Linked DNA regions of Homo sapiens: region 1 is linked to region 2. Evidence: fine-mapped expression QTL. A gene starts in region 2. The other region holds a variant in brackets. All regions are shown on one strand. Distances are between the middles of the regions. Region 1 holds the start of ZNF296 (zinc finger protein 296). Region 2 holds the start of TRAPPC6A (trafficking protein particle complex subunit 6A).

What was found. PIP is the estimated chance that this variant, and not a neighbour inherited with it, causes the effect.
Region 1: its variant is fine-mapped to the expression of TRAPPC6A in whole blood (TOPMed, PIP above 0.99).

The regions. Positions count from the first base shown.
Region 1 is chr19:45,072,153-45,077,516 of GRCh38, reverse strand. It overlaps ZNF296 (zinc finger protein 296), which reads left to right and starts at 1,039. Exons shown (of 3, transcript NM_145288.3): 1 at 1,039-1,441; 2 at 1,655-1,804; 3 at 4,937-5,364. The coding sequence starts at 1,144. It also overlaps a transcript of GEMIN7 not described here. RefSeq lists silencers at 843-1,252, 1,343-1,582, 1,913-2,222. The variant T/A (reference allele first, on the strand shown) is at 2,436.
Region 2 is chr19:45,175,335-45,180,698 of GRCh38, reverse strand. TRAPPC6A (trafficking protein particle complex subunit 6A) reads left to right here and starts at 2,462. Exons shown (of 6, transcript NM_001270891.2): 1 at 2,462-2,564. The coding sequence starts at 2,481. BLOC1S3 (biogenesis of lysosomal organelles complex 1 subunit 3) reads right to left here and starts at 1,915. Exons shown (of 2, transcript NM_212550.5): 1 at 1,868-1,915; 2 at 1-1,411. The coding sequence starts at 1,402. The coding sequence ends at 794. RefSeq lists enhancers at 1-202, 628-1,128, 1,669-1,988, 2,059-2,128, 2,141-3,084 and silencers at 1,009-1,318, 2,489-2,708.

The DNA.
Region 1 (5,364 bases), 100 kb after region 2:
ACAGTCCACAAGCCGTTCTATACTGTCGTGCAGTCGGTGCCAGGAAGAAAAGAATACTCATCAGGGATTGAGGGTGGGGCAGGGTGTCGATGCCACTTCAAACAGTGAGCAGACAGAACTGCTTAGGGGAGGGAAGTTCAAGGAGGCGGAGTGGAGGCAGGTGAGCTGCTTGGCTATTTGGTTTTAATGGCGACTTCTGGTCTAGGAACAGAGTCGATGTGTATGATTACAGTCCTCCTCTGCTCAAAACCCTCCTAAGGCTCCGGTCTCAGGAAAACCAAAAGACCTTAAAGCGATCAAAAGATTGCTTGGATCTGCCCCCATATTTTCACTGAACTCAATCCCCAACCCGTATTGCCTCTCCCTTTCCTTGTAATTCCTCAATGCCCAGGCCCACTGGCTGGGCTTCCTTCCCTCCAGCCTCAGCTCCACCATGCCCTTTCCCATCATAGGGGAGAAAATTGAATCCCTCAACCCCAGTAACCCTCTCCGCCTTTCCAGCTTTCTTTTGCTCCATGGCACTGGTCATCATGAAGGGCCATCTATATTTTACGTAATTATGTTTATAGTGTCTTCCCCCACCGTCTGAACTCCGTGCAAACAAAGATTATCTTCTGTTTATTCCCTCCTGTATTCTCAGGGCTTCAAACAGAGCCTGGCGCACAGGAGGCACTCAGTGAATGCTTGCAAAATGAATTTTTATTGTAATGCATTTAATGAAATAGCCCAGATTACTATCAGGCACCTAATAAGAAACGTGACCGACTATTTTTCTCGCTTGGGGGTGCGTGTGGGCATGCCGTGTCTCAGTTTCACCCGCCCTAAAACGGGATCAGGGATAGCTGTTTCAATGCCTTGTGGGAACTCGGTGTGATTAAATTTGGTCACTAAGCCAAACGCACGGGACACTGCCTAGATTGAGTTAGGCCGCCGTCAGGGCCCCAGCAGGGCGGCTCGGTCCCCTCCCATGAGCCCCGCCCTGGTAGGCGGAGCCACGGGCCCGGCCAGCACGTGTAAGAGTTCGCGGCGGGTCGCCGCAGTCACTCACCTGAGCGCGCACGGTCCGCGCGTCCTCCGCTCGTGCGTCCTCCGCCCGCCCGCCTGCCTGCCTGCCCGCCCGCTCGCTCGCCCGGCCCGCGACTCATGTCCCGCCGCAAGGCCGGCAGCGCGCCCCGCCGAGTAGAGCCCGCGCCCGCCGCCAACCCAGACGACGAGATGGAAATGCAGGACCTCGTCATCGAACTCAAGCCCGAGCCAGACGCGCAGCCCCAACAGGCCCCAAGGCTGGGGCCCTTCTCCCCGAAGGAGGTGTCCTCGGCGGGGCGGTTCGGCGGCGAACCCCACCACTCCCCTGGCCCCATGCCCGCCGGGGCCGCCCTCCTCGCCCTCGGCCCGCGGAACCCGTGGACCCTGTGGACGCCGTTGACCCCGAACTATCCCGGTGAGCACCCCGGGCCCTGGGCCCAGCCTCCCTTACCTTTGACCCTCGGGTGGGACCCTTCCCTTTGGGCATGGGCCCCTCGCCCTGCCTTATCTCCTTCGCCCCGTCCTGCCCCTCAGGCCCCCTTCTGACCTTCGGTTTCCCCTCTCCTTCAGCACCCTCAGCCCCCATCCTGGCCCCACCCCACGCTCACCACCCGCTTCCTCCCTGCAGACCGCCAGCCCTGGACCGACAAACACCCAGATCTGTTGACCTGCGGCCGCTGCCTGCAGACCTTCCCGTTGGAGGCCATCACTGCCTTCATGGACCACAAGAAGCTGGGCTGTCAGCTCTTCAGAGGCCCCAGCCGCGGCCAGGGCTCAGGTGAGTAAAGCCGGGTGCAGTCCCCCTCTCAAGTTCGAGGGCTGGGCTTCCTGCTGGAAAGGGGCTGGGCTGGACGGCAGGGCACTGAGCACTACTTCCCCTTTCTCGCTCCCCATCGGGTGCAGCCTAGGCGTGGCCAGGGCCTGCCCGTCCTAGGGCAGGGACCAGTGGTGGCGGTGGAGGGGGGGCGGGGGGGGACTGGGCAGGGAAGGAGGGCCGCCTACAGGGTGTGGCCAGCCCCAGAAGACTAGCCCGGGATTTTGCCCCCCCCAACACACACCCCAACCTGGTTTCACTTCTCCTTCCCCTTGGCCAGAAATAACTGGCCAGGTGGCTGGACCAGGGTGGCAGTAGGAGGGGACCTCTAGGGAGGGCAGCGGCCGGGGGGAGGGGGAGTGGAGGCCAGCTGGAATGGGGAGGTTGCCACCCCCTCCTGTCTCTCTCTGTCAATTCTGATTGAGGTGCTAGTACAGCTGAGTGTTCAGAGCCAAGGAAGGGGCTTCTGGCTTCCCTCGGTGATGGAATCTCCCAGCCCCGCGTGCTGGGAATCCCCTGGTTTGAGCGAGCTCCCGGGTGCTGGACACCCGGGTTCCTTCTCTTGGGAGGGAATTAAAAGCCTTCACATGGGGCT[T/A]GACCCTCGGTGAGCTTTTGGTCAGTGTTGGCTGCAGGGCTTAATCCAAACCTAGTTTCCAGCCCCCTGGCCCTTGCCCTTCTGAGACTTTTGAGAAGTGGAATTATTTAGGGTTGGGCCAGGGAGGGTCTGGTGGTGGGAAAGAGGAGGGGCTTGTGACTGATTGAATCAGCTTTAGAGCTGGAGCATGGAGAGTGGCCTGGAGGAGCGAGCGAGGGGCTGTGATGGAATCGCTGGAACAAAACACTACAGGGCTTGGAGAATCATGGGCACCTTGGTTTCACAGGCTCTGCTGTTTGAGCGCTTATGTGGACCAAAGCTCTCAACCATTCCCCAAGCGAGGTCACAACCACCCTTGAAAGGGAGGGGATCTCTAGGGTCCCTGAATTCTAGCAACTGAGGCACACAGAGGACTATGTCTTGCCCAAGGTCACACAATTAGGGAGCAGAGAAGTCTGAATTTGAATGCAGGCCTGTGCTCTTGACCCAGGACTGGTTGTATCACAAAGGTTGTCCCATCCAAGACTCTAGAATTTGAAAAATGGAAAGGCTAGTTCACCTAGGAAGTGTCCACTGAGAGTACCCCGAAGGTCCAGATAGAAATCCAAATTCAGGTTTGGGGGCTCAATTTGAGATCCATGCAGAGGGTGGGGGACCCAGGTCACTACCACCTCTTTACTAGGTGGCCGCTAAGCTTTCTCTGTAGCTACCCCATTATTTTGAGGTGGAGTCTTACTCTGTCACCCAGGCTGGAGTGCTGTGGTGCAATCTCAGCTCACTGCAACCTCCGCCTCCCAGGTTCAAGTGATTCTCCTGCCTCAGCCCTCCAAGTAGCTGGGACTACAGGCGTGCACCACCATGGCCAGCTAATTTTTGTATTTTTGGTAGAGACAGGGTTTCACCATGTTGACCAGGCTGGTGTCTCAAACTCCTGACCTCAGGTGGTCCACCTGCCTTGGCCTCCTGAAGTGCTGGGATTACAGGCATGAGCCACCATGCCCAGATATCTCAATTACTTTAAAAATTATTTTTATTAAACCAAAAAAAATTTTTTTTTTTGAAACAGAGTCTCGCTTTTGTCACCCAGGCTGGAGTGCAGTGGTGGGATCTCGGCTCACTGCAACCTCCGCCTCCTGGGTTCAAGCGATTCTCCTGCCTTAACCTCCCAAGTGGCCGGGATTACAGGCGCGCACCACCACACCCGGCTATTTTTTATTTTTACTAGAGACAGGGTTTCATCATGTTGGCCAGGCTGGTCTCAAATCCCTGACCTCAAGAGATCAACCCGCCTCAGCCTCCCAAAGTGCTGGGATGACAGGTGTGAGCCACCGTGCCCGGCCTAAACCAAAAATCTTATTCAAAAGCCTCTGCTCCCAGCCAGGTATGGTGGCTCACGCCTATAATCCCAGCACTTTGAGGGGCTGAGGCGGAAGGATTACTTGAGGCCATTAAGTTAAAGAATAGCCTGGGCGGCCGGGTGCGGTGGCTCAAACCTGTAATCCCAGCACTTTGGGAGGCTGAGGCGGGCAGATCATGAGGTCAGGAGATCGCGACCATCCTGGCTAACACGGTGAAACCCTGTGGCGTGGTGGCTGAGGCAGGAGAATGGCGTGAACCCCGGAGGCAGAGCTTGCAGTGAGCCGAGATCGCGCCACTGCACTGCAGCCTGGGCGACAGAGCAAGGCTCCGTCTCAAAAAAAAAAAAAAATAGCCTGGGCAACATAGCAGGACCCCATCTCTTTAAAAAATACTAAATTAAAAATTTAAAGCAAAAAAAAAAAAGCAAGCAAGCCTCTGTTCTGCCCTCTCCCCCTCCCCCAGTAGTCTGGATTGAAATCCCAGCTTCACCCCTTCCAAGCTGTGCAACCCTGGGGAAATGCCTCTCTGTGCCTCAGTTCTCCTGTCTGGAAAATGGAGATCTTATTTTCCTGTCCTGAGGGAAAGCCGGGCTATGAGCCATGGCTCAGCACCTAGCATGTAGGAAGCGCTTACTGAGTTAACATAACTTTTTAAAAGATTTTCAAACACATGGCCCAGCACAGTGGCTCATGCCTATAATCCCAGCACTTTGGGAGGCCGAGGTGGGTGGATCACTTGAGGCCAAGAGTTCGAGACCAGCCTGGCCAACACGGTGAAACCCCCATCTCTACTAATTAGCCAGGCATGGTGGCGGGCGCCTGTAATCCCAGCTACTCTAGAGGCTGAGGCATGAGAATAGCTTGAATCCAGGAGGTGGAGGTTGCAGTGAGCTGAGATCGTGCCACTGCACCCCAGCCTGGGCGACAGTGAGACTGTCTAAAAAAAAATGTTTTCAGGTACTTAGCACCCACTCCACAGATTTTTCGTGTCCACCCCTCCTCTGAGCGTCAGCTTCCTGGTCCTTCCAGGGTGTGTGTGTCTTGTTACTGCCAAGTCCTTTGCCCCTGCAGGAGTGCCTATCCCACAGAAGGTGTCCAGCTGGCAGCTGTCCGCACTAACACTCTGCCTCTTTTTCTTACCAGAACGAGAGGAGCTGAAGGCCTTGAGCTGCCTGCGCTGTGGCAAACAGTTCACAGTGGCCTGGAAGCTGCTGCGTCACGCCCAGTGGGACCACGGACTGTCCATCTACCAGACAGAATCAGAGGCCCCGGAGGCCCCGCTCCTGGGCCTGGCCGAGGTGGCTGCAGCCGTGTCGGCAGTGGTGGGGCCAGCAGCTGAGGCCAAGAGCCCCCGTGCAAGTGGCAGCGGCCTCACCCGGCGGAGCCCCACCTGTCCTGTGTGCAAGAAGACCCTCAGCTCCTTCAGCAACCTCAAAGTGCACATGCGCTCACACACAGGCGAGCGGCCCTATGCTTGCGACCAGTGTCCCTACGCCTGCGCCCAGAGCAGCAAGCTCAACCGCCACAAGAAGACCCACCGGCAGGTGCCGCCCCAGAGCCCCCTCATGGCC
Region 2 (5,364 bases):
GTGGAGCTAGGATGGGAGGCGTAGCCAACTGAGTGAAGGAAGACGGCAGGGAAGCTGTGCCACATCCTGGGTTCTTGTGGGAAGAACGGGAACAAGCTCCCCACCATAAGCAGAAACCAAACTCAGAAAGGCAGAGCAGAGCCCAGTGTGTGGTGGCTCACACCTGTAACCCCAGCACTTTGGGACGCCACAGTGGGAGGATTGCTTGAGCCCGGGAGTTTGAGACAAGCCTGGGCAACATAGTGAGACCTTCTCCCCTCTTCAAACCGACAGAAAAAAATTAACCGGGCAGCTGGACGTGGTGGTGCAGGTCTGCAGTCCCAGCTACTCTTGAAGGCTGAGCTGGGAGGATCACTTGAGCCCAGGAGGTCGAGGTTGCAGTGAGCAGTAATCCCGCCACTGCACTCTAGCCTGGGTGACAGATAAACACCCTGTCTCCAAAAAAAAAAAAAAAAAAAAAAAATTGGTGAGCCCCCAGGGTGGAAACAGATTAAGGAGCAACTATGTAACAAAGGCTGGAGCCAAGCCCCAGGGGAAGGCTCAGAACCAGGCGGCAGGGTCAGGATCGGGAGAGGAACCAGATCTAAGGATAGTGGGGCCCTGGTCTCCGCAGTAGGGGTTGAACTATATCCAATATAAAGCATTATCCAAGGGGACCGGATTAGCCCCCATGGGTGACACCAAGATGGGAGCGGGGGTGGGGGGTGATAAGAGACACAGGAGACAGAGTCAGGTCCCAGAGGCAGCAAGGCCTACCCCCAAATTGCAGTCAGGTTGGGAAGTAGAATCATGGCTAGGCCCGCGGCCCCGGGTCTTTCTCAGGCTCGGTCCCTGGCACGCCGCGGATGTCCGGCAGCAGGCGGCAGCCAGCCACGATGTCCAGACGCTCGGCCAGCGCACAAAGGTCCCCGCGCGCCAGGCGCACGCTGTGGGCCGCCGCCAGCCCCGCCGCCTGGGCTGCCGCCAGCCTACTAGCCAGGGCGGCCACGTCGCGGCCTGCACGGCGGTAGACACCGCTCACGGCGGCCGCCACGTCGTGGTCCAGCCGCGCCTGGCTCTCCGCCAGCCGAAGTTGCAGGAGCGAGCGCGCGGGGGCGGGCGCCGGGGCCTCCTCCGTGCCCCAGGCCTCCTCCGCCGATTCCCGCTGCACCACGAGTGGAGGCAGGTCCCTCGGCGCGGCCGTCGGTTCCGGCTCCGGCTCCGGCTCCGAGTCGGTCTCCGCGGCTTCCCCAGCCACCCGCAGCCCCGTGGGGCGGCCGCGCGTCGGGCCCGAAGGACCCAGGTACAGCTCCTCCTCCTCCGACGAGGACGCAGAGCGCTCGGAATCCGTCTCGGTCGCCTCCCCCGGCACCACCGTCTCCGGCCTCCGCAGGGGCCTCCGCCGACGACCCTGGGACGCCATGGCACCGAACTAGGGGAGAAGAGCGAAGGGACTGCACGTGAGACCGGCGCCGCGGTGGGTAAAAGGCGCAGGTCCTGGATTCCCAGCCCCTTCGCTGATTCTCTTAACGACTTGGTGTCAGCTGCTCCCCGTCTGGGCCTCAGTTTCCTCTTCTGTAAACTGGGTGATGATGGGGGTTACTGGACCCCAGGCTCTTCAGCGTACAGATGGGGAAACTGAAGACCAGCTCGAACAAGGATCTGGGGCCCGAGTTCCCGGAGTCCCAAGCCGAGGTCTTTACGAATTTGCCTCCTAGTAGAGGCCACACCCTCCACCTGGTCCACCATGCCAATCTCAGACCCGGAAGCACACGGGCCCGTGAGCTGCTCGGGACCAGCGCCAGAGTCGCAGAAAGGATGACAGTCCGACTGGACTCTGCTGGGGGCACTCATGGGATGGGAGAAGCGCTAACGCCAAAGACCGTACCCGGCAGCTGACGCTCGGAGCTTGCGAGATCCGCTTCCTAACCCGAGTGCTGCGTTCTCACCGTGGCAGCTGAAGGGCTGTGATTTCAACCAATAGGGGAGCGGGTTGGGCGGGCATTAGCGGCCAAGTCACGTGGATTCGCCCGGCTACCAATCAGGAAGCAAGTTCTCAGCATCAGCTTTGAGTGAGCGTGCAGAAGAGTCACATGAATGGAGGAACCGCCAATAGAGAAACAGCTGGGCCGGCTCTTCCAGGTTGTGCGACGAGGAAAGTCTGGAGTGGACCAATAGGGATTTTAAAAGCCGAGTATGTCACGTGTAACCAGTAATTTGGCCAATAGGAATGCTCGAGAACCCGGAAATAGGGAAGGGACGGCAGTAAGAGCAGAAGATGTTGCCACATGTGGCCAGAGAAGGCGTAGGCCCGCCCCCTAGTGTCCCAGGCTCACGCGCACACCACCTGAGTCCGGGGCGGGGAGGCGGGGCTAGTCTAAAACACCAATGGAAGCCGGAGTAGGAGGGCTCGCGCCATGACGCAAGAGGCGTGGCTTACCAAGCCTGGCCAATGAGAGCTGGAAGCGCTGGGCGCATCTTTAGGCGTGCGAGGAGGGGGCATGGCGGATACTGTGTTGTTTGAGTTTCTTCACACGGAGATGGTGGCTGAGCTGTGGGCTCACGACCCCGACCCCGGCCCGGGGGTGAGCGCCGGGCTCCGTGGGGAGGAAGCGGGGGCCACCAAGGTAACGCCTCTGGGAGAGCGGAGGGCGCGTCAGGCGTCCGGGTTCGAACCCGGCCCAGCCCCGGCCTTGCAGGGCAACGTCTGGCCCTGGCTTCCTCCTTTGGAAAGTGGCGTTCGCGACGGTGCCGGCTCGGGGTTATTGCTAAATTGAGCGCGATGATTCAGGGTAAAGCACTTAGCTCAAGGCCTGAGTAAGCGGCTAGTAATCATAATAATGCTGTTATTGGGCGTGTGCTGAGGACTCGCCTCCCCCACTTACTAGGTGTGCGACCCAATGACTTAATCTTTGTGTGTCCTAGTTTTCTCTTTTGTAAAATGAGTATCATAACGTACCTAAGCCTCAGCGTGGGACATTTATTTATTCGACACCCACTTATTGAGCGTCTGTTGTATTCCAGGCACCGTTCTAAGACAGAATCCCTTCCTTGTGAAGCTTACATTTCACTAGGGGAGTCAAATAATAAAATGAAATATGCCGGCTGGGCGCTGTAGCTCCCAGCACTTTGGGAGGCCGAGGCCGTCGGATCACCTGAGGTCAGGAGTTCAAGACCAGCCTGGCCATGGTGAAACCCCGTGTCTACAAAAATTAGCCGAGCATGATGGCGGGTACCTGTAATCCCAGCTACTCGGGAGGCTGAGACAGGAGAATGGCTTGAACCTGGGAGGCGGAGGTTGCAGTGAGCCAAGATTGTGCCATTGCACTCCAGCCTAGGCGACAGAGCGAGACTTGTCTCAGGAAAAAAAAAAAAGAGATAATGGGGTTTTGCCATGTTGCCTAGGCTGGTCTTGAACCCCTAGGCTCAAGTGATTCTCCCGCCTGGGCCTCCCAAAGTGCTAGGATTACAGGCGTGAACTACCGTGACTGGCCCGGGACTGTGTGTGTGTGTGTGTGTGTGTGTGTGCGCGCACGCGCATCCTGCTCGGTCGCCCAGGCTGGCTGGAGTGCAGTGATGCAGTCATGGCTCACTGCTGCCTCGACCTCCTGGGCTCAAGCGATCATCCCACTTCTCAGCCTCCCAAGTAGCTGGGACCACAAGCGCTGCTGGCGCCACCACACCTGGCTAATTTTTTGTATTATTATTATTTTTTTTAGTAGAGACGGGTTTTCACTGTTAGCCAGGATGGTCTCCATCTTCTGACCTCGTGATCTGCCCATCTTGGCCTCCCAAAGTGCTAGGATTACAGGCGTGAGCCACTGCACCCGGCCAATTTTTTTTTTTTTTTAGTAGATACGGGGTTTCACCATTTTGGCCAGGCTGGTGTCGAACTCCTGACCTTGTGATCCACCCGCCTCGGCCTCCCAAAGTGCTGGGATTACAGGCGTGAGCCACCGCACCTGGCCATGTAAGACATTTTTATTGGCTCTGGTTTCCTTCCAGGGTTAGAAGCCCCAGGGAGGATGTTGCTTGTTACCATCTCGATATACAGATACAAACCTGTCATAAGTTTAAAACATCATAAATCAAAAATGCATTTAGCCAGATGTGGCGACTTGCACCTGTAATCCCAGGTACTCAGGAAGCAGAGGTGGGAGGATCACTTGAGGCCCACCGTTCAAGACTAGCCTGGGCAACATAGCAAGACCTCACCTCTAAAAGAAATTTTTATTTTTATTTATTTATTTATTTTTGAGACAGAGTCTTGCTCTGTCGCCCAGGCTGGAGTGCAGTGGCGCAATCTTGGCTCACTGCAAGCTCCGCCTCCTGGGTTCACGCAATTCTCCCGCCGCAGCCTCCTGAGTAGTTGGGACTACAGGTGCCTGCCACCACACCCGGCTAATTTTGTTTTTTTTTTTTGTATTTTTAGTAGAGATGGGGTTTCACCATGTTAGCCAGGATGGTTTTGATCTGACCTCGTGATCTGCCCGCCTCGGGCTTCCAAAGTGCTGGGATTACAGGTGTGAGCCACTGTGCCTGGCCAAGAAATTTTTAAAATTAGCTGGGCGTGATGACACATGCCTATACTACCAAGAACTCGGGAGGCTGAGGTGGGAGGATTGCCTGGGCCCAGGAGTTCAAGGCTGCAGTGAGCTATGATCATGCCACTGCACTCCAGCCTGGGTGATAGAGTGAGACCCTGTCTCTAAAAAAACATGGGGATTACTCAGTGAACCATCAAAAATTTTTGGACTCTTGGAGCTTTGTCATCATTGGAGGAGACAGACAAGTAAATGAGTAAAGTGTCTGGTACATTGTGTAACTGCTATGAGGAAGATACAGCATGGCCCAGGGAGTATGCATCAGCCTGGGGGTGGGTAATAATGTCCCAACACTCCATATCCTTCCTGGCTTTCAAACGAGAAACCCTGGAGTCCCAACACCTGCCTTGTCTCCCTCACCTGCAGCCCTCCCCCAGGCTCTGCCCAGTCAGTCTAAATACCTTTCTCACGTGGCCCCTCCTCTGCCCTGGTCCAGTGCTTTCCGCTCTCCTGTGAAATGAGCCTGCTCCCTTCTCCCAGCCCATTCCACCTGTCACATCTTCACCATGCTAACAACTATTAATCCTTCAGATCTTAGCGTAACAATCCCTTCCTCAGGGATGCCTTCCCTGAGCCCCCAGTCAAATTTGGATCTCCTTTATACATTCTCCTGGTCTCCCTCTCGCACTTTTTTCTTGGTAGGCTTCATCATACTCAATAAGGATGTATTTGATTTTTTTTTTTTTTTTGAGACGGAGTCTCGCTCTGTCGCCCAGGCTGGAGTGCAGTGGCGCGATCTCGGCTCACTGCAAGCTCCGCCTCCCGGGTTCATGCCATTCTC